Homo sapiens: one gene and its partners. The gene in region 1 interacts genetically with each later gene. Each region holds a gene or a part of one and is shown in the gene's direction. Other genes may lie near its edges. The genes, in order: MFAP1, MRPL22, NUP43, CDK1, CDC40, CKAP5 and PSMD1.

Region 1 (3,500 bases):
AAAATTAGCTGGGCATGGTGGCATGCGTCTGTAGTCCCAGCTACTCAGGAAGCTGAGGCAGAAGAATCACTTGAACCCGGGAGGCGGAGGTTGCAGTGAGCCGAGACCACGCCACTGCACTCCAGCCTGGGCGACAGAGCGAGACTCCGTCTCAAAAAAAAAAAAAAAAAAAGAATTGTATTTGTAAGAGATTACATACTCTTGCATGTTTGATAACACATAAGGTAAAGGAAAAGAAGGTAGAAATAGGTAAGATTAGAATATTGAGTCATGTGGCAGTATGTTATAAAGGCTGCCATGGAAATTCCAGAGGGAACTACAAGAATGCCTGAGCAGTTTTATGTTCCTGCAGAAATTACCCTTACTATGTGCTGGGCACTGTTACAAATAATTTGTTTAAGGGTATAGTTGAGGTGGGATACCATGAATTTGTGATGGATGCAGTCTGCCTTTTTGGGGGGGGACTTTTTTCTACTGTTTCACTGCCTACCTTCCTCTACTTCATTGTACTCAAGGTAAGCCTCATTATCATCAGTGTTGGCTTTCACAAGGATGCAGTCTCATGACTTGGCCTTTGTAGGAAAACACCATTAGAAGAGTAGATGGTTGGGTAGTGGCTCTCTTCTTCTTCTGCTTAGACTCTTGTCTACTATGAATAAAGGGCTCTATTTGCAAAGGCCGTGATGGGTTGAAGCACATTGAGAAAGAGGCTACTGAAACATAAGTTACCTTTCTCGCCCAGGTGAGATTTCAATGGAAAAAGTGAAGGTAAAGCGTTATGTGTCCGGAAAAAGGCCAGACTATGCCCCTATGGAGTCCTCAGATGAGGAGGATGAAGAATTTCAGTTCATTAAGAAAGCCAAAGAACAAGAAGCAGAGCCTGAGGAACAGGAGGAGGATTCATCCAGTGACCCCCGGCTACGGCGTTTACAGAACCGTATTAGTGAAGATGTGGAAGAGAGGTAATGTCTGTGATTGTGTTTACTTGAACATGAACCTCTACAGCTTAATAATAATAATAATAGCTAATACTTGAATAGTACTACCAAGTAGATTACATTTGCTAATTCTTGTAATCCATACAATAACTTTATGAAATAGGTGCTATTATCCCCATTTCACAAAAGGAGGAAACTAAGAGCACAAAGGGGCTAAGAAAGTTACATGACCAAAGCTACAAAGTGGCAGCTTCAGGAAACAGCAGGTTACTTCTGGCCTAAAGGACCTACTCAACTCCTTATGGGAATAGAAAACACAGACCATTTGTTGGCTGTTGAGAGGAGTCTTTTTAGCACAAAGATGTTTTATAAACTTTGGTAAATTGATTTTATACATCTACTTATTCTAAATGCTAATAAGGGGAAATGACACTGAAGTAGGAGAAAAGACCTTATAAAGGTCTCATGGTAGAAAGAGAGCCTCCCAGTGAGGGATTTTGTATGTTATATATTGATGGAGACATTACTTTATAGAGTAGGCCAGGAGTCCTGAACTTTCACCGTTCATAATTGTCCCAGGAGTTTTTTCACAGAGCTCCTGGGCCAAAACAGTTCTGTTTATTTTAGTTATTAAGTAGTTAGAGCCAAGTAACTTAATAAGTATTTATGTCCTAATAACTTTGCCACTTGAAGATTAACAGTGCCCATGGCCAGGTGCGGTGGCTCACGCCTGTAATCCTAGCACTTTGGGAGGCTGAGGCGGGTGGATCACGAGGTCAGGAGTTCAAGACCAGCCTGGCCAACTTGGTAAAACCCCATCTCTACTAAAAATACAAAAAAATTAGCCAGGCCTGGTGGCGGGCACCTGTAATCCCAGCTACTTGGGAGGCTGAGGCAGAGAATTGCTTGAACCTGGCAGGCAGAGATTGCAGTGAGCCGAGATCACGCCACTGCACTCCAGCCTGGGTGACAAAGCGAGACTCCATCTCAAAAAAAAAAAAAGAAAAGAAAAAAGAAAAAAAAATAAAATTACAGTGCCCAGGGGGGAAAAAACACTTTTATTCATTCTCACATAACCATAGTTACTAGTGGAATTTGTTTGCCTGTTGGACACTGACAGCCTTTCAAACCTTGGAATCAGCACTGTCACTTTTTCATGTCTTGTTTTATATTGATTTTCATACTATACTTTCTTTTACTTTTTATCACAGCAGCCACCAAAACCCAGTTTCACAAAGACACGATATTCTCGAAAGGAATGTAGTGTGACTTAATGTTGAAAGTGAATTATCTTGAGCTATTAAAAATATTCCAATGCAGGCCAGGCTCAGTGACTCATGCCTGTAATCCCAGCACTTTGGGAGGCCTAGGCAGGCGGATCACCTGAGGTCAGGAGTTCAAGACTAGCCTGGCCAATATGGCGAAACTCCATCTCTACTAAAAATAAAAAAATTAGCTGGGTGTGGTGGTGCATGCCTGTAATCCCAGCTACTCGGGAGGCTGAGGCAGGGATTATCACTTGAACCTGGGAGGTGGAGGTTGTGGTGAGCCAAGATCATGCCCTTGCACTTCAGCCTGGGTGACAGAGTGAGATTCTGTCTCAAAAAAAAAAAAATCCCAATGCATCCCTATGAGTTTGCTGGCTTGCTGTGGTGCCCCAGGATGCCTCAACATACATTTAGTATTTCAGGCCCAACTTGACTATTCGCTCTGACATCCTAGTTTAGTTTCTTTAATCTGCACCTCAGTTTCCTCCACCTCAATACTTTAATACTGGATGGACATGGTGGCTCACACCTATAATCCCAGCACTTTGAGAGGCTGAGGTGGGCAGATTGCCTAAGTCCAGGAGTTCAAGACCAGCCTGGGCAACATGGTAAAACCCCGTCTCTACAAAAAATACAAATATTAGCCAGGTGTGGTGGCACGCCTATAGTCCCAGCTACTCAGGAGGCTGAGGTGGGAGGATCACTTGAGTCTGGGAGGCAGAGGTGGCAGTGAGCCAAGATCGCACCACTGCACTGCAGCCTGGGCGACAGAGCAAGACCCTGCCTCAAAAAAAAAAAAACTTCAGTATTAATGAAGGCAAACATAATGTGCTCTGTGGCTATGGAAATGCAGTTGATGCTACTTCATTTTTATGACATTGGTGTTACATTTGGAGATACTGTTTTTCAGATTGGCTCGACATCGAAAAATAGTGGAACCTGAAGTGGTAGGAGAGAGTGACTCAGAAGTAGAAGGAGATGCTTGGCGCATGGAACGAGAAGACAGCAGTGAAGAAGAGGAGGAGGAAATTGATGATGAGGTATGATAAAGGAACATGGGAAGTTTTTTTCTGGATATAAGAAAAAGTTCATGCCAGTGCTCATTTGTTGAAGCCTTAAAAACATGAGATCACTGCTTTGGCAGGACTCTGATCATGTTCCTTGTTTGTGGGGATAGGATTAAAAATAGAATGATACTAAGTTGTATCTTTTTACATTTGAATTTGTTGTGTTTGATGAGACGAACAAAAAGCCATAGGCCATTTGACTGACTGGCTTATATATATGACTTGAT
Region 2 (3,500 bases), on another chromosome or scaffold:
CTTAGACATTTCACCTGCCCAAAGTAAATGCTGAGGTTTTTTTTCAGTTTTGGAAGAGGATGATTAACTTTTGCCTTTCTTGTAAACACTTCTTCCTTTTTGCCATCCTCTGGTCAGGATTACCATTGTTTATATGTGTAAAATTTGAGGGTAATCATACAAAATTAAGGTTTAAAATTATCCCACCACAAGAATGCACAAATTAAAGGGTCTCTTCTTTTTTATTTTTATTTTTTTGAGACGGAGTCTCGCTCTGTCGCCCAGGCTGGAGTGCAGTGGCGCAATCTCAGCTCACTACAAGCTCCACCTCCCGGGTTCATGGCATTCTCCCGCCTCAGCCTCCCGGGTAGCTGGGACCACAGGCGCCGGCCACCATGCCCGGCTAATTTTTTTTTTTTGTATTTTTAGTAGAGACGGGGTTTCACCATTCACAGGATGGTCTCGATCTCCTGACCTTGTGATCCGGCCGCCTCGGCCTCCCAAAGTGCTGGGATTACAGGCTGAGCCACTGCTCCCGGCCAAGGGTCTCTTCTATATGAAAGATTTCATTGAGTGGATTAATTTTTGCAGATTATTATTATCAGTCATGATAGTTCTTTCCTCTCCCTGTCTCCCCAAGAAACTTTATTGCTGAAAATGTAATTAGGCTATTGCTATAGTTTCAGGCTGTCTGCTTCTATTGCAACTGAAATCTGCCACATATTAAAAGATGGCCACTTGAGAAAACTGCTCTTTCTAAGGCATTTGAAAATTTCCAGCAGGAGTCAGAATGTTAGAAAGTTTTGAGACCTCCTTGCTATAGTTTTCCATAACACATGTTTTCTAATTTTTTTTTAAATGGCAGTTTGGTATAGTAGTGGAAAGAAAGTGGGTTTTAGAGTCAATAGAGGAACTTTTGAAAGTAGATGTGCTAGACATTGTATCAGGTGTATCATACTTCTCTGTTCTTTGAATTCCAACTTTGTCTCTTGCAAACCTCTGGTCTTAGACAAGTCACTTGATTTCTCTGATTTTCAGTTTATATGTAAAATGTTTCATCCCTCAACTCATAGAGTTAGACTAAATGAAATAATGAGTGAAAAGTGCTTTTTGAACTATACATTGTAATTAAACAGGACATACCTACAACTTTAAATAGAAGATAATAAAAGCTAACATTTACTGAGAAGTTACCATGTGCCAAGCACTATAAAATGGTTTCTTGAAATAGGTTACTTTATTTCCCTCTAATTATCGTTTTATTTATTTTACAGAAGAGGAAAATTAGAGAGAGGTTAAGTAGCTTGCTCAAGATTATGTAGCTAGTAAATGGCAGAGTTAGGATTCAAATCCAGGCAGGCAGTCTGATTCTAGAACCTATGCTGTTGGCCAAACACCTAGAATATTGGCTTTTCACATGAAAACACTTGTCCATTTTGCCATTTTTCTCCTCATTAATAATGAACGTTTTCTTGTACTTTTTCTTTTGTTCTTTTAATCAGCTAAATGTTTTAAAGATACTTTCATTTAAATCTTTTAGGATTTCTTTGGATAGAAATGTTGCAAGTGTTGACACAAACCAGCCATTGTATAGTTTCTATTTCTCCCGTAGTAATCTTTTAACATAGTGAGACTTTGGAAAAATACAACTTTGTGTAGGGGAAAATAATCTCTAAATTCTTAGTAATGTTTCTATTTCTTATGGCAGCATTTTCTTTAGGCCTAGAAAGTAAAAACTTAAATAACAGTATATGTTATTGTCATTTTGTGGTAAACCTGCTAACATTTTCTTTCTGTCCTTTTTTTTCCAATTTGTAAGGAAATCTACCACTGTCGAAGACAAATAAAATATAGCAAAGACAAGATGTGGTATTTGGCAAAATTGGTAAGCTGCAATGACTATTACCATATAATTAATAATTTAGGAAAGAAGCTATGAGTTCCCCTCCCCACCCCTCACCCCAGGATTTGAAAAATAAAAAAGATTTGTGAGGAATGTGATATAATTGGTAGGTTGTCAAAAGAATGATTGTTCAGAGATGTATGATTTTCCTTAATTTTCACCTTTTTCTGAGAAACTAAATCACATTGGATAGATAGATACTAAAAGGCATCAGGAGTTTGGCTATAACCAGAGAATCCAGGAAACCCACCTATTTATCTGTAAACTTGATTCAACCTGTTTTAAAACTGTTGCTTTTAAGTTTTTTTCCCTAGGAAATGAAATTTATAGATGAGGGGAGACTGAAGCAGCAAATATACATGTAATACATTTATCCTATAGGAGAAGGAGATGCCTTGAATGCCTAGTGTGGTTGTTACCAACCTGTGGTCTCTCTGTCATGTTTGCTGTCTTTTAATGTTATTGAAACTATTATAATCTCAGTTTTATGGTTAAAATGTTTGTTTCATTTTGACTGAAAGAGAATAGTGTCTCCTCTCAAACTTGTTTTCTTCTCTTTTATTTGGGTTCAATTCACTGTTTTTAGAAGTTACTCAAATTATGTAAGACTTTCATTGAAAAGGAAACATTGACTTTGTAAACTAATTTATTTTCTTTTGTCTCTCACCCTTTAATTCTAGATACGAGGAATGTCTATTGACCAGGCTTTGGCTCAGTTGGAATTCAATGACAAAAAAGGGGCCAAAATAATTAAAGAGGTAAACTTACAAGTTTGGGTGTGGTAGGGAATGGGGAACTGGGGAATGCAGCTGTCTTGCAATTATTAGTAAGCTTAGCCTAAATCATGAATTCCCTAAATTTTCTGTTGTAAATGCATACTTTATATAATACAGATTTAGGGTTCTCAGTTTATTAAATATGTGTATACTTTAGGAATGTTGTGTGCTTTAGGGTTTATTTCCTGAGGTGCTTTTATTTCCACCAAATATTTATCTGTTTTTTACTGCTTATGATGTGATGAATCTTATTTTTAATGATTTGGGGCTTGGTACGTATATGTGTGTATTTGTGTGTATGTATGTGTGTTTGTGTATATAATTTATTTCTTGGAGCAAGGCTGAACTTCAAGGTATATTTTTTTGAAGATTTTTTTTTTCCTATAAAGGAGAGTTTTTATAACTAAGTAATTTTGTAACTAAATGGAAAGAGCCCTGGACTGGAACTCAAGAGACTTGGACTCTAGTCCTTTCTCTGATCTTTTTCTTGTGACCGTGGGCAAGACACTTAACCAGTCAGTTTCTATTTTTCTCACCTAAACTATGTGGAATTGGATTAGATGACCCCTAAAGATCCTTCCAACTCTAAATGTAGCTAATTCACTAGATACAAATGTGCTGATGGTAATTGTGGTGACTCTTTCTAGGAACATGAATATTCTTTTTTTATTACATATATTTTTCTTTTTTTTTTTTTTTTTTTTGAGACGGAGTCTAGCTCTGTTGCACAGGCTGGGGTGCAGTGGCGCCATCTTGGCTCACTGCAGTCTCCGCCTCCTGCGTTCAAGCGATTCTTCTGCCTCAGCCTCCCGAGTAGCTGGGACTACAGCTGCGCGCCACCA
Region 3 (3,500 bases), on another chromosome or scaffold:
TTGGGATGTTAGACAAGGTACTATGCCTGTATCTCTGCTGAAGGCTCATGAAGCTGAAAGTAAGTATTGTGAAGATACAGAAAGTTTATATTGGGTGAGTTATATGACATATAATAAGCACCTTTCCATAATGATACATGTGGATCATTTTACATCATAGCTTTTAATGGCTGAATTGTGTAAATTTAAATAGTTATGTAATTTCTTTTTACTCGACATTTAAGTTCTTTAACATTTGTTTTTGTTTTTTTGGAGACGGAGATTCACCCTTGTTGCCCAGGCTGGAGTGCAATGGCGCTATCTTGGCCCACCGCAACCTCTGCCTCCTGGGTTCAAGCGATTCTCCTGCCTCAGCCTCCCGAGTAGCTGGGATTACAGGCATGCACCACCACACCTGGCTAATTTTATATTTTTAGTAGAGACTGGGTTTCTCCATGTTGGTCAGGCTGGTCTTGAACTCCTGACCTGAGGTGATCTGCCCAGCTCGGCCTCCTAAAGTGCTGGGATTACAGGCATGAGCCGCCGTGCCTGGTTTTTTTTTTTTTTTTTTTTTTAAAGAGACAGGGTCTGGTTCTGTCGCCCAGGCTGGAGTGCAGTGGTGCAGTCACGGCTCACTACAGCCTTGACTTCCAGGGCTCAGGTGATCCTCCCGCATCAGCCTCCCAAGTAGATAGGACTATAGGTGTGTGTCACCATGCCTAGCTGATTTTTTGTTGTTGTTTGTTTTTTTTTTTGTAGATATGGGGTTTCACTTTATTGCCCAGGCTGGTCTCAAACTCCTGGGCTCAAGTGATCCTCAGGAAGTGCTGAGATTACAGGTATGAGTTATGAGCCACCACATCAACCACAGGTTTAATTCTTATATCCAAAACTGTAGTTAGAATCCTTAGATATTTATCTCTGTGTGTGTTTTTTTTTTTTTTTTTTTTTTGGAGACAGGGTCTCTCTCTGTTGCCTAGGCCAGAGTGCAGTAGTGGTGTGATCATAGCTCATTGCAGCCTTGAACTCCTGGACTTACACGATTCTCCCAAAGTGCTGGGCATAGCCATTATGCCCATGCCCAGCCTTATGTACTTATTTTCTTAGGATAATTTTTTAGAAGTAGAATTGCTAGGCCAAACATTTTGCATAGCGCATTGACAGATTTTTCTACACAAAAATAATACCAGTTTAAGCCAGGCACATTGGCACATGCCTGTAGTTCCAGGCTCCTCCTACTCAGGAGCCTGAGGCAGGAAGATTGCTTGAGCCTGAGAGTTTGAGGCCAGCTTAGGCAACATAACCTCTTTAAAAAGTTAATAATACTAGTTTAATCCAGGTGAGTGGCATGCACCAGCTTCTCAGGAGGCCGAGGCAGGAGGATTGCTTGAGTCCAGGAATTCAAGGCTGTAGTGCATTATGATTGCACCTATGCACTCCAGCCTGGACAATATAGTGAGACCCCACTCCCTGAAAAGTGATAAAAATCATACCATTTTATATGCCATAGTGAAGTGTGCAAGAATGCCCTTTTCCCATGCAAATGCAGGCTGTCATATTTGTTAATAAATGTTGTGCTCCTCAATTTATTGTTGCATCACATCATTTTTTTTAACATGAACAATAGATTTATAAGCTTTTTTTTTTCTTTTGATTCTGGTGGAGATGATTTAGCCGGACAGAAATTTTTCATTTTCTCACTCTGTCTTTGATATCATGCCAGAATGGATTATCCTTTTTTTTTTTTTTTTTTGAGACAGAGTCTTGTTCTGTCGCCCAGGCTGGAGTGCAGTGGCACAATCGCGGTTCACTGAAACCTCTGCCTCCTGGGTTCAAGCCATTCTTCTGCCTCAGCCTCCCTAGTAGCTGGGACTAAAGGCATTTGCCACCATGCCTAGCTAATTTTTGTATTTTTAGTAGGAATGGGGTTTCACCATGTTGGCCAGGCTGGTCTCAAACTCCTGACCTCAGGTTATCTGCCTGCCTTGGCATCCCAAAGTGCTGGGATTACAGGTGTGAGCCACTGCGCCCGGCCCTATATATTTTTTTAAAAATGGGGTCTCTCTCACCCAGGTTGGAATGCAGTGGCATGATCACAGCCCACTGCAGCCTCAGCCTTGCCTCCCTGGCTCAATCAGTCCTCCCACCTCAGCCTCCCGAGTAGCTGAGGCTACAGGCACGCACCCCTACTACACCCGGCTAATTTTTTATTTTTTGTAGAGACAGGGTCTCAATATGTTGCCCAGGCTGGAGTGCAGTGGCATGGTACCTCACTTAAGCCTCAACCTCCTGGGGTCAAGTGATCCTCTTGCCTTGCCCTTCTGAGTAGCTGGGACTACAGGTATATGCCACTACACCTAGCTAATTTTTTTTATTATTAGATTTCTATAGAAATTATGATTCCATAAAAGATTTTGAGGAAATGATGGCCGGGGGCGGTGGCTTATGCTTGTAATCCCAGCACTTTGGGAGGCCGAGGCAGGTGGATCACCTGAGGTCAGGAGTTCGAGACCAGCCTGACCAACATGGAGAAAGCCCGTCGCTACTAAAAATACAAAATTAGCCGGGCGTGGTGGCACATGCCTGTAATCCCAGCTACTAGGGAGGCAGAGGCAGGACAGTCACTTGAACCTGGGAGGCAGAGGTTGTGGTGAGCCAAGATCGCACCATTGCACTCCAGCCTGGGCAACAAGAGTGAAACTCCGTCTCAAAAAAAAAACAAAACAAAACAGATTTTGAGGAAATGAGGAAGACTGGTATCTTTCAGAATTGAAAGTGATTTTGGAATATATAGAATTTCTTTGGGGCTGGGCACGGTAGTTCATGCCTGTAATTTTAGCACTTTGGGAGTCCAAGGCAAACAGATCTCTTGAGCCCAGTTGTTTGAGACCAGCCTGGGCAACATGGAGAAACCCCATGTCTGTTAAAAATACAAAAGTTAGCCAGGTATGGTGATACATACCTGTAGTCCTAGCTACTCAGGAGGCTGAGATAGGCGGATTGCTTAAGCCTTGGAGGTCAAGGCTGCAGTGAGCCATGACCATGCCATTCTGCACTCCAGCCTGGGCGCCAGAGCAAGACCCTGTTTCAAAAAGAGAGAGAGAATTTCTTTGAGTTGAATTATGTAGAAGTTTGTCACTGACCTATGTTCCTAAAGTATGAAGCATACATATGTGGGCTAAGAAATAGTTTTTCTTGATAAATAATCAACAAATAAAAAATAAAAAGCCCTCCATCTGAGACTGGATCCAAATTCTTGGAACATTTCCAAATTTTGGTTTGGTAGAAGTCAGTTGCTATTTCTGTGATAAAGACCAGAAGTATTCAGAATCTTGGCATTAACCAATATTGGATATTGCCTCTTAGAAATTCATTTTTATATTTCATTAGGATCTTTCTCAGTTTTTCCAATAATATAATCTTCATATATTAATGACACAGGAATTGAAAAATAAGACAACTTACCAATTTAAAAAAAAACTTTTCCGTAAAAGACAGTCATTCCTAGCTGGGCACACACC
Region 4 (3,437 bases), on another chromosome or scaffold:
AGGAGTTTTCCTAGCTACAGTTTTTACATTTTCATTATTTTTTACTTTATTTATTTACATCATTCCCATCCTTTGTTGTACTTTAATTCTTTATATTAAACTCTCCCCATTCAAATCACCACCTTGGTTTCTGTCTCCTGACTGAACCCTCCCTGATTATAGTCAGATTGATTCAAAGACAGGTTTTGTTCCTTAAGGTATATTATTTCTGATACATTTAGGAATTGCTAACTATAATTTATGTTTGATCTGTGTTATATTGCTGACTTGGCATTTAGTGTTTCTGAAGGAAAGGGAACATTGTATAATAAAGGATTATTGAAAGGCTGTCTTCTGTGGAGTTGTCTACCCTTGACCCAAAGACTGTCTCCAGATCAAAACTAGTAACAGTGCTCATCTGATTAGATGTCTTGGCTGCTTGTTAGTCTTTATCATTTTTTTACATGGCTATATAAATAAACTAAGATTATTTTGTTTTCTTTGTCTTAAACAAATGCTATTGACCTCATTAGCTTTGTTCTAACAGGCAATATTTTTACCATATGATAAATATACTAAAATGGTTGGTTAGTTCTAGATCACTAATCTGTTATTTGACTTATTCACGTTTTTTAAATAATTTAAAAATCATTTTTTATCGACGCATTATTATACATATTTATGGGGTACAGTGTGGTATTTGGATACATGTATGCAATGTGTATTGATTAAATTGGGGTAGTTAGCATATCCATTGCCCCAAGCATTTATTATTTCTTTTTGTTGGGAACATTCAAAATTCTTTGTTTGGGCTATTTGAAAATTTACAGTAAATTATTGGTAACTGTAGTCAGCTTACAGTGCTGTAGAACACTAGAGCTTATTTTTCCTTTTGAGCTGTAATTGTATCCATAAACCAACTTATCTCTGTCTTCCTCTACTAAGCCCTGAATAACCACTATTCCACTCTATGGCCATTAGATCAACTTTTTACGTTTTCAAATATGAGTGAAAACATGTGGTATTTATCCTTCTGTGCCTGGCTTATTTCATGGCTCATCCTTGTTGTCATAAATGACAGAATTTCATTCTTTTTTTATGGCTGAGTAGTATTCTAGTATTCCATTGCGTGCACGTATGTGTGTGTACACTACATTTTCTGTATGTGTGTATGTATACACCACATTATCTGTTGATGGAAACAGGTCGATTCTGTATCTTGACTATTGTGAATAGTGCTTCAATAAACATGGGAGTGCAGATATCTCTTTGACATAATTGATTTTATTTATTTTGGACATATACCCCCAGCAGTGGGATTGCAAAATTATATGGTAGTTCTAGTTTGTAGTTTTTTGAGCATCCTCTAAACAGTTTTTCATAATGGCTCTACTAATTTAAGAGCCCACCAACAGTGCGTAAAAAGTTGCCCTTTCTCTGCATCCTTATCAGCACTTATTTTTTGTCTTTTGATGATAATTACTCTAACTGGGTGTGATAGCTCATTGTGGTTTTGATTTGCATTTCCCTGATGAATAGTGATGTTGAGCACTTTTTCATATACTTGCTGGTCTTTGTATGTCTTTTGAGAAAGTTTTATTCAGATTGTTTGACCATTTTTAAAATTGGATTCTTACTATTTTTTTTATTCTGGATGTTAATTCTTTGTTGTATGAATGATTTGCAAATAATTTCTCCCATTCTGCAGATTGTTGCATTATTCTGTTATTCTGTTCATTCTGTTTCTTTTGCTGTGCAGAAGCTTTTTAGTTCGATATAATCCTGTTTGTCTATTTGTTATTGCTGAGACAGGGTCTTTCTCTGTCACCCATGCTGGAATGCAGTGGCGTGAACAGGGCTCACTGCAACCTCAACCTCCTGGGCTCCAGTGATCCTTCCACGTCAGCCTCCTGAGTAATTGGGCCCATACACAGGCATGCACCACCATGCTAGGCTGATTTTTAAATTTTTTAGAGACGGGGCTGTCAGCATATTTCCCAGACTGTTCTCGAACTCCTGGGCTCATGCAATCCTCCCGCTTTGGCCTCCCAAAGTGTTGGGATTATAGGCATGAGCTGCTGCACCTGGCCTCATTTGTCTATTTTTGATTTTGTTTCTTGAGCTTTTGAGGTCTTATCCATATGATTTTTGTCCAGATCAATATCAATAACAGTGTTTCCTCTGTTTTCTTCCAATAGTTTCATAGTTTAAGGTCTTATTTAATCCATTTTGAGTTGATTTTTGTGTATGGTTAGATATAGGGGTTTAGTTTCATTGTTCTGCATGTGGATTATCCAGTTTTTCCAGCACCATTTATTGAAGAGATTGGCTTTTCCCTAGTGAATGTTCTTGTCATCTTTCTCAAAAATGAGTTGACTGTAAATACATGGATTTATTTCTGGATTCTCTATTTTGTTCTGTTGGTCTCTGCGTCCTTTTTTATACTAATATCATGATGTTTCGGTTACTATAGCTTTGTAATACATTTTTGAAGTCAGGTGATACGATGCCTTCAGCTTTGTTGTTTTTGCTCAAGATTGGTTTAGCTATTGTGGGTCTTTTTTGGTTCTATATGAATTTTAGGATTTCTTTTTATTTCTGTGAAGAATGTCCTTGGTATTTTGATGGAGATTGCACTGAATTTGTAGATTGCATTGGGTGGTAATATGGTCATTTTTATATTAATTCTTCCAGTTCATGAACATGGGATGTCTTTTTTGTATCTTCCTAAATTTTTTTCTTCAATGTTTTATAGTTTTTAGTGTAGAGATTATACATCTCATTTGTTAAATTTATTCCTAGGTTTTTTGTACCTATTGTACATTAGATTGCTTTCTTGATGTTATTTTTCAGCTAGTTATTGGTGTATAGAAACTATTAATTTTTGTATGCTGATTTTGATTTTGTATACTGCAACTTTGTTAATCAGTTCTAAGAGTTTTTGGTGGAGTCTTTTAAGTTTTTCTATATATAAGATCATCTCTGCACACAGGGACAATTTGACTTCTTCCTTGGCAATTTGGATGCCCTTTATTTCTTTCTCATGTTTCTTATTCATGTTATAATGGTACTGTTAGTACCATCTTAGCAAGTAAGCAGTACCTGCACTTTGTTCAGTGTCACCCCAAATCTATTATCAATGGGTTTGGTTTTTCAGTGGGGGGAAGATAAGGCTGTATAACTGTCTTGATCTTTAGTGATTTGAAAAGCAAAAAAATATTTATTATGCTTTTATCTGTTTTGTCTTCTAATGAATAGAACTTAGAAATGAAATATTTATCTTCAATTTTGTGTACCTTTAATTGACTTAAACAATATTATTGGTGGCAGTCATACAACCTTTAAAGGACAGCCCTAATAAAAATATAAATGTTTAAGTGTAGGTAATTTTATGCACCACATTTATTCATTGTAAAAATTTGCTTTTTAATAGGTAGTAACACTCTGGTACAGATCTC
Region 5 (3,500 bases), on another chromosome or scaffold:
TTACACATATTTGTGTTCTCCAGTATATGTATGACAATGAGTATTTTCTGGATAAAATTTTTTTTTTTCTTTGAGACGGAGTCTCGCTGTCTCCCAGGCTGGAGTTGAGTGGCGCAATCTCCGCTCACTGCAAGCTCTGCCTCCTGGGCTTACACCATTTTCCTGCCTCAGCCTCCCTAGTAGCTGGGACTACAGGCACCCGCCACCACGCCTGGCTAATTTTTTGTATTTTTAGTAGAGACGGGGTTTCACCATGTTAGCCAATAAAAATTTTTACATGCAACATTGTAAGGTTTTGCACTTTAGAAATCATGCAGTGGACCCTATTGGATTGCAAGAGTTGGTTATTAAGTGACTTTAAGGTTACAAAAACAAAAGCAGATCTGGCTTTCTCTCATTTCAACCAGTGACTATGTTACTTCCCCCGAATGTATTCTTTGCCTTAGCATAGCCAACTAAAGTAAAATAAAAATTCTGCCTCTAATTTTGAGGCATATTTTTCAGTTTTTTCATGTGTGGTATTTCCTATATTTGTGAGCTTCAAATGGACGACCTTTTCCCTCTGCAATCTGTTAAGGGCCAAACTCAGAGGATATCTTTATCTGAAGTTCTGTTCTTTTATATCATTCACCTAAATTCTTCTATTAGGAAGTTTAGTCATTTCTGTTTTCTGGGAGGAAAAAAAACTATGCCATAAATTGATAAGTAACTTATAATAATAATATTTGTGATCTGCTTTACAGTTTACATGGTGTTTTTATGTCTCTTTTCTTATTTGGGCACAGGAAGAAATGTGGAAAAGACTGAAAAGTGAATATTACCCAGTTTTATTCTCAAATTACTTTGAATCAACAAAAAGATAAACTATTTAAACTTATTTGACCCACAGGGTGCCCTTCACTTACTGCATTTTAATTTTTGTGGATAATTGAAACTGAATAGAAATAATTTGTTATTCTGTGGTAATTCCAATTGCATACCTAATTGGTATTGAATGCCTCATGGGTATTAAAACAAGGTTGTGGTATTGTCCAAGTTTTCTAATTAAATTTCTGTAAAATAACAGCCCTTCGTTTTCTTGAGAGTTGTTCAATTTGTTCTATAATTTTAGCAGGAGTCAGAGACTGGGACTTACTTATATTTTTTATTGGCTGCCAGTGTTGCTTATATAAACAGTAATTTCTTAAATTGTACTTTGCATTTAAAAATTGATGTGTCATGATACTCTTCAAAATAATTTCAATTTGGAATATTTTAAATACCCTTAATTGGAAAGATCTCATATCCCATATTATAAAGTGGTTCTAGCAACTATACACTATAAAATCCTTTGGGAAGATATGAATGTGGCTAAGCCTCATGTTATTTTAAGCAGTTTGTCACTAGGGGTTGAATATTAAGCGGGAAAAGCATTTAATTTAGCTTTTATGCAGTTTAAACAATTTGTATGTAACCTGTTAACTTTATAGTACTGAGTTTGCTATTGGGCCATGTGCAAGATAGTATCTTTCATCAGTAAAGATTCTAGTGTTCATTCTAGGGTGATATAGATAATATTTGTCATCTTTTCAATGGCCTAGCATTTGAAACCCCTTTCTTAAGGGTCTTAATTTGAAGAACATCCCTGTTCATCACCCATCTTCAGAAGCTGAAAACCCAGATTATTCTAATTCAGCTCCCTTTCAGCTGAGGCTCAGGACTGTTGGGTGGGTGTATCTGTTGGGCTCAGCCAAACAGATGTACCAACCTAAGCTTTCTAATCTGAAATTTATCCACAAAGAAGCCAGGAAAGAGGACTTAAACTGGCAATGATGGTCAATGTTTTCTAGTTTCTCAGGCCAGCAGTTTCAATAGCAGCATCCAGTGGTAGCCATAGCAGTTTAGTAGTGGTGTTCAGTCATGGTAAACAATTATCCTCACTGGATGGGTTCTGTGATGATTAATTTTGAATTGTGATTTCATCTATTAAGTGTATACTGACCCTTTATTTCTGCCTACTTGTCAAAGCTGATTCTCCACACTTCCTGGTAATTCTAAGAGAAACTCATAAGGATTTTATAATGCTGAATCAGCCTGCTGCTTGCAACTAAGAACCCTGACTGATACACCTAGTTACTCTGCCAGTGATTTTTTAATTTGTCACTAGTTAGATCTCTTTAACATTGTTCATTGTGGTTACTTTGAGCTCTTCCCCTTCCCATTTATTCTATTAGTAGCTTGGGTTAAGTGACTTAATCCTGCTAACACTTAACCTCACAGATTATATGAAATAGTGTGTCTGCTCTGGTGCTAGCATGTTAGTGTTGTTAAATTCTTTTTTTTCATATTATTTAGCCTCTTCTAGAGAGCTGTAAACTTATTTATATATTATATAGTCTATTGTCTGTCTCCTCCACTAGAATATAAACTCCACAAGGGCAGGTATCTTTGTCTATTTCTGTGGGCCCAGGACAGTGCCTGGCACATAGTAGGCACACAATCAAAATCTGTTGAATGAATATATGAATCTGGAGCTCCATGCTTGCTTTATAAATTTGCCTGTACCCTGACTACACCAAGAAAATAAAAGGATCAATTATGATTCCCAACACCTCCAAACATCTGTCATCTATCACCCATTCTTACCTTTGTCATCTCTATTTCATCCCAAAGAGAGCACTCCTCTTTTCAGAGGCTAATCTTCCAACTGTGTCCTGAATTTTATTCCCTCCTACCTCTTCTAGGGCAACTGTACCTTTATCTGGTCCTTTTTGTCATGTGTCTCTCCCTGCCATCACCTGCCTTCTAGCCTACGATTGACCACATCTTTGACTTAGTCTCTTCTTAAGGAAGAAGAAAAACTTGACCCTGAAAATCCTTCAACCTGACACCCCATCTGTTCTGTTTTTTACCACCAAATATTTTCAGTACAGATTTATATGGTGGTGTTTTTCTAGATCCTCATTTACACCTCTGCCTCTTGCAGCTGGCTTTCCATAGTCCTTACTAACAGTCACTCTCACAAAGGTTTTTTGTGACATAATTGCCAAATCCAATGATTGTTGGTCAGCCTTATCCTACTTAATTTCTCTACAGATTTGGCTTTTCTGTCTTCAATTTAATTTAACAAATATTTATTGAATATGTGCTGAATGCCCTGCGTTCTACTGGGCAGTGAGGATATATGATGTACATAAAAGCCATGTGCAACAAATAATATATCACAAGTACTATCAAATAGAGTACAGCATTTTTTTAGGACCACAAACAAAAACCCAACAGTTTTCCTGAGGCAGGAGGAGGGAAGGTATCAGGAAAAATAAGAAGGCGGCATAAAATAATAAAGGCATTGCCTAAGGTACAAGGCGGTAACATTGCCTACAGCACAGAAAGCATCAAAGTGCTTGCTATTTTTAAAAATCAGCAATTAGTCTAATATGACAAAAGTGAGGGTGTATTAAAGCAGATAAGGAAGTATTACAATAGGCCAGGCAAGATATAATGAAGCCCTAACTAGGCCA
Region 6 (3,500 bases), on another chromosome or scaffold:
GGAATATTTTATACCTAGGCAAGATTCTTTTCCTGCAAATTATGTACAGTGACTACTTGACTTTCAGACTATAGAGGTTATGATCTTTTGAGGAGCAGAGCCTTTGCAGCTTGGAAACTGAATCCAAATTCTCCTGTGTTCCTCTTCTTGAAAGAAAGCACAAGTTAGTGTTATGATTCCATTAACTGTTAAACATGTTGTTTCTTACTTGTCCCATATACTGGTGTTCAGCTGAATCTGGCCAAGCATAGGCATCAAATGTGGAGTATTTGAAGATCATTTGGGAGTGAGTTATTTTAGATAGAGGGTAAGAGGAAAAGGAAATACTTATTTGCTAAATGGATTACCAAGGGTTTCCTTAACCCGAAAAATTTTTGTTTTTTTTTTTTTGTTGTTGTTGTTTTTGTTTTGTTTGAGATGGAGTTTAGCTCTGTTGCCCAGGCTGGAGTGCAGTGACACAATCTTGGCTCACTGCAGCCTCTGCCTCCTAGGCTCAAGCAATTCTCCTGCCTCAGCCTCCTGAGTAGCTGGGATTATAGGCATGTGCCACCACGCCCGGCTAGTTTTTGTATTTTAGTAGAGATGGGGTTTCACCATGTTTGCCAGACTGGTCTCGAACTTGGCCTCCCAAAGTGCTGGGATTACAGGCATGAACCACTGTGCCTGGCCCAAAAAGAATTTTTGAAAGAGTAACTGTCAATTGGCACAAGGAAAGCTATACTTAGTTCCAGTAAATTGTAAAAAGCAAATTCTTTATCTAGCAACCATCAGTCTGAATTAAAATGAGTAATGCCTAAAATACCTTGCATTAATATCATTTTGCTTACTTCTGGACTATAGCACATCAATGATTCTGCTCCTGAAGTCAGAGATGCCGCATTTGAAGCATTGGGTACTGCTTTGAAGGTGGTTGGCGAGAAAGCAGTAAACCCATTCCTAGCTGATGTGGACAAACTCAAGCTTGATAAGGTAGGTTAGTAATGGATTGGACTGAAATTGGACAACATTCCTGTCTCTTTGCATCATGGCTTTGTCTCTTGACAGTTATAGAGTACTGGTAGTTTTGATGAGGAGTTCTTGATTTTTTTTAAATTGCCATTTATAGTAGGAAAGAAATGCATAATTGAAACAAGTTTTGGAGGATGCTCTCTGGTACTTTTTGTCTTCAATTTTGTCTGTTGTTTTATTAAGAAAAAAATGCTGATATCACCTCAGGAAATTTATTTCATCCTCCACTGATAGTTCAGACCGAGTTTGAAAACTTAGCTTTTGAGAATTTAAGTTTCATTCCAGGCTATGATGGTGATAATTGTAGAAATAGCTTTCAAATTATAACCGAAAAAAAGCTGAGTGACCAATCTGTAGAGAAGGTGAAAACAGTTCTGTGAGATAAATTTATTTCTAAGGTCCAGAAAATTACCTTCTTATATGTGAATGTCTTCCATAAACAATGTGGTCATTTTAAGTTTATTACAATTCTAATTTGTAAAGAAATAAAATGTAAGATTAATATCTTACGTATGTCTATCTACTGCCAAAAAAGTGTAGATAATTTATCTTTTTTGTTGAAAGGGAAATTTTTTCTCTGAAAATTTTTTTTTTTTTTTTTTTTTTTTGGCAATGAATCTCACTCTGTCACCCAGGCTGGAGTGCAGTGGCACAATCTCAGCTTACTGCAACCTCTGCCTTCTGAGTTCAAATGATTTTCGTGCCTCAGCCTCCCAAGTAGCTGGGATTACAGGCGCCTGCCACCACGCCCGGCTAAACTTTTTTATTTTTAGTAGAGATGGGGTTTCACCATGTTGGCCAGGCTGGTCTCAAACCTCTGACCTCAAGTGATCCACCCATCTCGGCCTTCCAAAGTGCTAGGATTATAGGTGTGAGCCACCTTGCCTGGCCATTTCTCTGAATTCTTATGTGTAGTTGTGGTTTAGAAATGTAATAACGTAGTGGTTGTGTTTCAAAGTTGGGCTTAATGATGTTCATCTCACTTTCATTCTCCAGATCAAAGAATGTTCAGAAAAGGTAGAACTGATACATGGTAAGAAAGCTGGACTAGCTGCTGATAAGAAGGAATTCAAACCTCTGCCTGGAAGGACTGCTGCTTCAGGGGCTGCAGGAGATAAGGACACAAAGGACATTTCTGCACCCAAACCAGGACCTCTAAAAAAGGCACCTGCTGCTAAGGTTAATAGATTATTTAAAAATAGAAGTTAGTAAGGAAGGGTCTGAGTCTCAGGTTCGTGGTTGTTCCTCTAAAATTATTTTGTTTGAGAAATGAATTCATTGGCCACATTAAAAATACAGCAGAAAATCTGTTAATGAAGATAGGATATTCCAGCAATAAATTCAGCTGTTTGGAGCTTTAATAGAGATAAAAATGGTGATGAAGGCACAGAAGTGTGTTTTGTCAATTTAACATAAAATTTACTATCTTAACTTTTTTTTTTTTTGAGATGGAGTCTCGCTCTGTTGCCCAGGCTGGAGTGCAGTGATGCAATCTTGGCTCACTGCAACCTCCGCCTCCCAGGTTCAAGTGATCCTCCTGCCTTAGCCCCCCAGTAGCTGGAATTACAGGCACGTGCCACCATGCCAGGCTAATTTTTGTATTTTTAGTAGAGATGGGAATTTGCCATGTTGGCCAGGTTGGTCTTGAACTCCTGACCTCAGGTGATCCACCCGCCTTGACCTCCCAAAGTGCTGAGATTACAGGCGTGAGCCACCGTGCCTGGTCTGTCTTAACTTTTTAATGTGCAGTTCATTAATATTAAGTATGTTTATAATGTTGTGCAGCATCACCACAATCCATTGCCGTAATGCTTTTCATGTTTTAACACTGAAACTCTATGAATCAATTAACTATCCTCCCATTCTCAGCTTCTTCCAGCCCCTTCTTTCTGTTTCTATGAATTTGACTACTTTGTTTTTATTTTCTATATTTTTTAGAGACAAGGTCTTGCTCTGTTGTCCAAGCTGGAGGGCAGTGGTGCGATTATAGCTCACTGCAACCTGGAACTCCCAGGCTCAAGTGATCCTCCTCACTCAGCCTCCCAAGTAGCTAGGATGACAGGGACTTGCCACCATACCCAGCTTATTTTTAAAAATTTTTTATAGAGGGCCTCGCTGTGTTGCCCAAGCTAGTCTTGAACTCCTGGCCTCAAGTGATCCTCCTGCCTTGGCCTCCCAAAGTGCTGAGGTTACAGGCATGAGCCACCAAGCCTGGCCTTGAGCATCTTTTCATGTGCAGGTGGCAATCTGTAGTTGTATAGTTCTTCTTGGAAAAAAATATCTACTCAAGTTCTTTGCCCATTTTTGAATTGGGTTGTTTTGAGGCAAGGTCTCACTCTGTTCCCCAGGCTGGAGTGCAATGGCACAATCACAGCATACCTCCCAGGCTCAAGCAATCCTCCCACCTCAGCCTTTTGAGTAGCTGGGACCAGAAGCACGTGCCACCACACACAGCTGATTTTTTATTTTTTAATATTTTTGTAGAGACGGGT
Region 7 (3,500 bases), on another chromosome or scaffold:
CAATTTACAAGATAATCAGTTATTTTATTTCCTCAACAGCAAAATGCATTGATCACTACACCAAACAATGTGTGGAAAATGCAGATTTGCCTGAAGGAGAAAAAAAACCAATTGACCAGAGATTGGAAGGCATCGTAAATAAAATGTTCCAGCGATGTCTAGATGATCACAAGTATAAACAGGCTATTGGCATTGCTCTGGAGACACGAAGACTGGACGTCTTTGAAAAGACCATACTGGAGTCGGTAGGTAGATGATGTTATTTTAGAAATTATTGTTGATAGGGAATCAGCAAAGCAAGTTATTCAAACTGAAACTTTCATAGGCAGTGAAAAGAAAATCTAGTTTAGAAATAGCAGGTGATCTTTTGCCAAATATTTTATTTTCATATTTATGTATGAACCTTGGTTGTGTTTTGTGTTCATGAAATATCTGCTTTTATCTTACCACATAATCCTTTGAAGTCTTGCATGGGGAAGTTGTATTAATTACTCTGCCCTTTTTAAGAAGACAATAAACTATATTTTAATGCATTTATTAGGGTTAAAACTACTCAGCTAGATTCCTGGTTTGCGGTGTTTGCAATAATTAAGACAATTTAAGTCACCAACCGAAGTGGTCAGAAAGGTACAAAGCTGAGTAAAATGGACATTGATCTGCAGGCTTACTTTGCCTCACCAGCTATTTCTTTCCATGAGCTAGCTCTCTGTACACTAGCCATTTTGGTATCTTCTCATCTAGATGAACCCTGCCTCGTTCCCCCTTCCAAAAATATTTTTTACATTTCTTTTTTCTTTCTTTTTTTTTTGAGATGGAGTCTCGCTCTGTCAACCAGGCTGGAGTGCGGTGGCGCAATCTTGGCTCACTGAAACCTCTGCCTCCGGGGTTCAAGCAATCCTCCCATCTCAGCTTCCTGAATAGCTGGGATTACAGGCGTGTGCCACCACACCCAGCTAATTTTTGTATTTTTAGTAGAGTTGGGGTTTCATCATGTTGACCAAGCTGGTCTCAAACTCCTGACCTCAAGTGATCCACCCGTCTCAGCCGCCCAAAGTGCTGGGATTATAGGCATGAGCCACCACACCTGCCCTCCATTCCTTTCTTTGCCTGCTTTATTTCTCCTCACAATCCAAAACTTAGCTCAACTATCCCTTGTTTGCAGAACTTTGATCCCAATACCCATGCCTTCCTCAGCCCCTAAGCAAAGACTAGGTCCAGTTCTGTTGTTAATCTTATGGAGCCCTGTACATTTTTTCATGGTGTTTATCCCTTGATAATTGTATTAGTAGATAGTTAATAGCTGTCTTTCCCACTAGATCATAAGCTATATCGGGACAGGTATTTGTGCCTTTTTCACCACTGTATCCCCAAAACCTAACACAGTGTTTAGCGTCGATAATACGATTTGTTTAAATGAGTGAATGAATGAATGGCCTAATGTGATATAATGGCCCTTGTTTCCCTCTCAATTTCATTTTTGTGCAGTTTTAGCCCATCCTTGTCTTCGTGTGTGTAAGATTACATTTTTGGCTTTCATTTATTCAACAAATATTTTTTCAGTGCTTACTGTTTGCCAGATACTGTTCTAGGCATTGGAGATGTGCATTGTCCCCATTCATCCATGGTTTTGCTCTCTGTGGTTTCAGTTACCTGCAGTCAACTACAGACTGAAAATATTAAATAGAAAATTCCGGAAATAAACAATTCATGTCTTAAATTGTGCACCATTCTGACTAGCACAACGAAATCTCTCACCATCTCTTTCCATCCCGCATGGGATGTGAATCATCCTAGTAGATCTATGCTGTGTACACTGCCTATTAGTCACTTTAGTGGCCACCTTGCTTATCAGATTGACTGTCGCAATATCACAGTGCTTGTGTTCAGATAACCCTTATTCTACTCAGTAATGGCCTCAAAGTACAAAAATAGTGATGTTGGCAATTTAGATATGCTAAAGAGAAGCCTTAAACTGCTTCCTTTAATTGAAAAAGTGAAAATTCCCAACTTAATAAGGAAAGAAAAAAAATTGTGCTGAGGCTGCGCTGAGATGTACATAAGAATGAATCTTCCATCCATAAAATTGTGAAGAAGAAAACAGAAATTTGTGCATAATTTATATAGAGTTTGGTACTGTTTGTGGTTTCAGGCATCTGCTGGGGGTGCTGGAACATAGTCCTCTCAGATAAAGGAGCACCTACTATAGTAGCAAACAAGACCAACAAAGTTCCTGCCCAAAGCAAACACTTCATTGGGGAATCTAGAAGGAGAACAAGCAGTCAAACAAATAAATATATAAAGTAAAAGAATGAAAAATGTTTTAAAAAAAAAAAAGCAGAGTAACAAATGCATCTTTCTTTGTATCCCAGTGCACATATACATATAGATGTAATTTAAGCTTTATGAAACTAATACCTACTCTTACTACTTGTGATATAACTCTGTTATTTTTAAATTGTATTTTTTATTTTTTTAATTTGCTAGTCACACTTCATTAAATTGATTTTATTACGCAGTGGAAAGTCACAACTCACTTTTTGAGAAACACTCCTGTAGCTTTCAGTGTGCTAATTTATGTTGAAGGCCTTTTACAGGGTGAAGTCTCAAATATTGGGGATACTTTTGAGAATCACCAAGTAAACACATAGAGCCTGGATCAAAGTTTTCTTGTAGGGAGAGCACCAGACAGATGTGGCAGTACTCAATGCTTGAGTCACTGAGAGCTGTGTTGTGTTTCCTGGCCAGCAAGTGAGTGTAGGCAGTAAGTCATGAGGGAGTCTAGTAGCAAGATAAGAAGCAGAAAGACTTCAGCAGACACATTTGGAAAACATAGCTACTTAGTGTATGGACAGTTGTATATCTTTTATAATAATTAACAGCATCACTTTATTATAGTATACTATGTTCATGTAATAGTGATTCTGAGTACCACTAAATATTATTTTTAATCCATTTTTTATGATGATGTGGAAATATGTAATTCTTTTAAGATTTTCATCTAAAATGGTTTAAAATTCTTGAGTTTGTATTGCTTAAGAGGTCTAAATAATTGGCTTCCTAGATTGGCTAAAGAAGCAAGATTAAAATAATTCAATTTCTAAATAAATATAATGCTGCAATAACCAGATAACGTTATATCTTTAAACTATCTCTTTCAGAATGATGTCCCAGGAATGTTAGCTTATAGCCTTAAGCTCTGCATGTCTTTAATGCAGAATAAACAGTTTCGGAATAAAGTACTAAGAGTTCTAGTTAAAATCTACATGAACTTGGAGAAACCTGATTTCATCAATGTTTGTCAGGTAATGACATTAAATTATGTTTCATTACATTGCTCCACGCTGTACTGTGCTATGCTATACCACTTCACATTTTATTACTTTATATTACTATAATGGCTTTATACATGTATCTCAGCTGATCTTCACAGCAGCCCTGTGAAAATAAGGTATGTGCTTTATATTCCTTTTTATTAATAAGAAACTAAATCTCACAACACT

What was found.
Region 2: changes in MFAP1 (region 1) and MRPL22 together harm fitness more than expected from each alone (negative genetic interaction), as found in Homo sapiens cells (one large-scale study listed by BioGRID).
Region 3: changes in MFAP1 (region 1) and NUP43 together harm fitness more than expected from each alone (negative genetic interaction), as found in Homo sapiens cells (one large-scale study listed by BioGRID).
Region 4: changes in MFAP1 (region 1) and CDK1 together harm fitness more than expected from each alone (negative genetic interaction), as found in Homo sapiens cells (one large-scale study listed by BioGRID).
Region 5: changes in MFAP1 (region 1) and CDC40 together harm fitness more than expected from each alone (negative genetic interaction), as found in Homo sapiens cells (one large-scale study listed by BioGRID).
Region 6: changes in MFAP1 (region 1) and CKAP5 together harm fitness more than expected from each alone (negative genetic interaction), as found in Homo sapiens cells (one large-scale study listed by BioGRID).
Region 7: changes in MFAP1 (region 1) and PSMD1 together harm fitness less than expected from each alone (positive genetic interaction), as found in Homo sapiens cells (one large-scale study listed by BioGRID).

Annotation. Positions count from the first base shown.
Region 1 is NC_000015.10:43,814,691-43,818,190, reverse strand, and holds part of MFAP1 (microfibrillar-associated protein 1), read left to right. Parts: intron 1-742; coding exon 743-962; intron 963-3,116; coding exon 3,117-3,246; intron 3,247-3,500. UniProt on the Homo sapiens protein: Involved in pre-mRNA splicing as a component of the spliceosome.
Region 2 is NC_000005.10:154,954,573-154,958,072, forward strand, and holds part of MRPL22 (large ribosomal subunit protein uL22m), read left to right. Parts: intron 1-1,798; coding exon 1,799-1,864; intron 1,865-2,562; coding exon 2,563-2,640; intron 2,641-3,500.
Region 3 is NC_000006.12:149,733,030-149,736,529, reverse strand, and holds part of NUP43 (nucleoporin Nup43), read left to right. Parts: coding exon 1-59; intron 60-3,500. UniProt on the Homo sapiens protein: Component of the Nup107-160 subcomplex of the nuclear pore complex (NPC). The Nup107-160 subcomplex is required for the assembly of a functional NPC.
Region 4 is NC_000010.11:60,788,478-60,791,914, forward strand, and holds part of CDK1 (cyclin-dependent kinase 1), read left to right. Parts: intron 1-3,412; coding exon 3,413-3,437. UniProt on the Homo sapiens protein: Plays a key role in the control of the eukaryotic cell cycle by modulating the centrosome cycle as well as mitotic onset; promotes G2-M transition via association with multiple interphase cyclins.
Region 5 is NC_000006.12:110,186,927-110,190,426, forward strand, and holds part of CDC40 (pre-mRNA-processing factor 17), read left to right. Parts: intron 1-3,500. UniProt on the Homo sapiens protein: Required for pre-mRNA splicing as component of the activated spliceosome. Plays an important role in embryonic brain development; this function does not require proline isomerization.
Region 6 is NC_000011.10:46,794,281-46,797,780, reverse strand, and holds part of CKAP5 (cytoskeleton-associated protein 5), read left to right. Parts: intron 1-840; coding exon 841-969; intron 970-2,004; coding exon 2,005-2,187; intron 2,188-3,500. UniProt on the Homo sapiens protein: Binds to the plus end of microtubules and regulates microtubule dynamics and microtubule organization. Acts as a processive microtubule polymerase. Promotes cytoplasmic microtubule nucleation and elongation. Plays a major role in organizing spindle poles.
Region 7 is NC_000002.12:231,066,867-231,070,366, forward strand, and holds part of PSMD1 (26S proteasome non-ATPase regulatory subunit 1), read left to right. Parts: intron 1-39; coding exon 40-245; intron 246-3,158; coding exon 3,159-3,302; intron 3,303-3,500. UniProt on the Homo sapiens protein: Component of the 26S proteasome, a multiprotein complex involved in the ATP-dependent degradation of ubiquitinated proteins.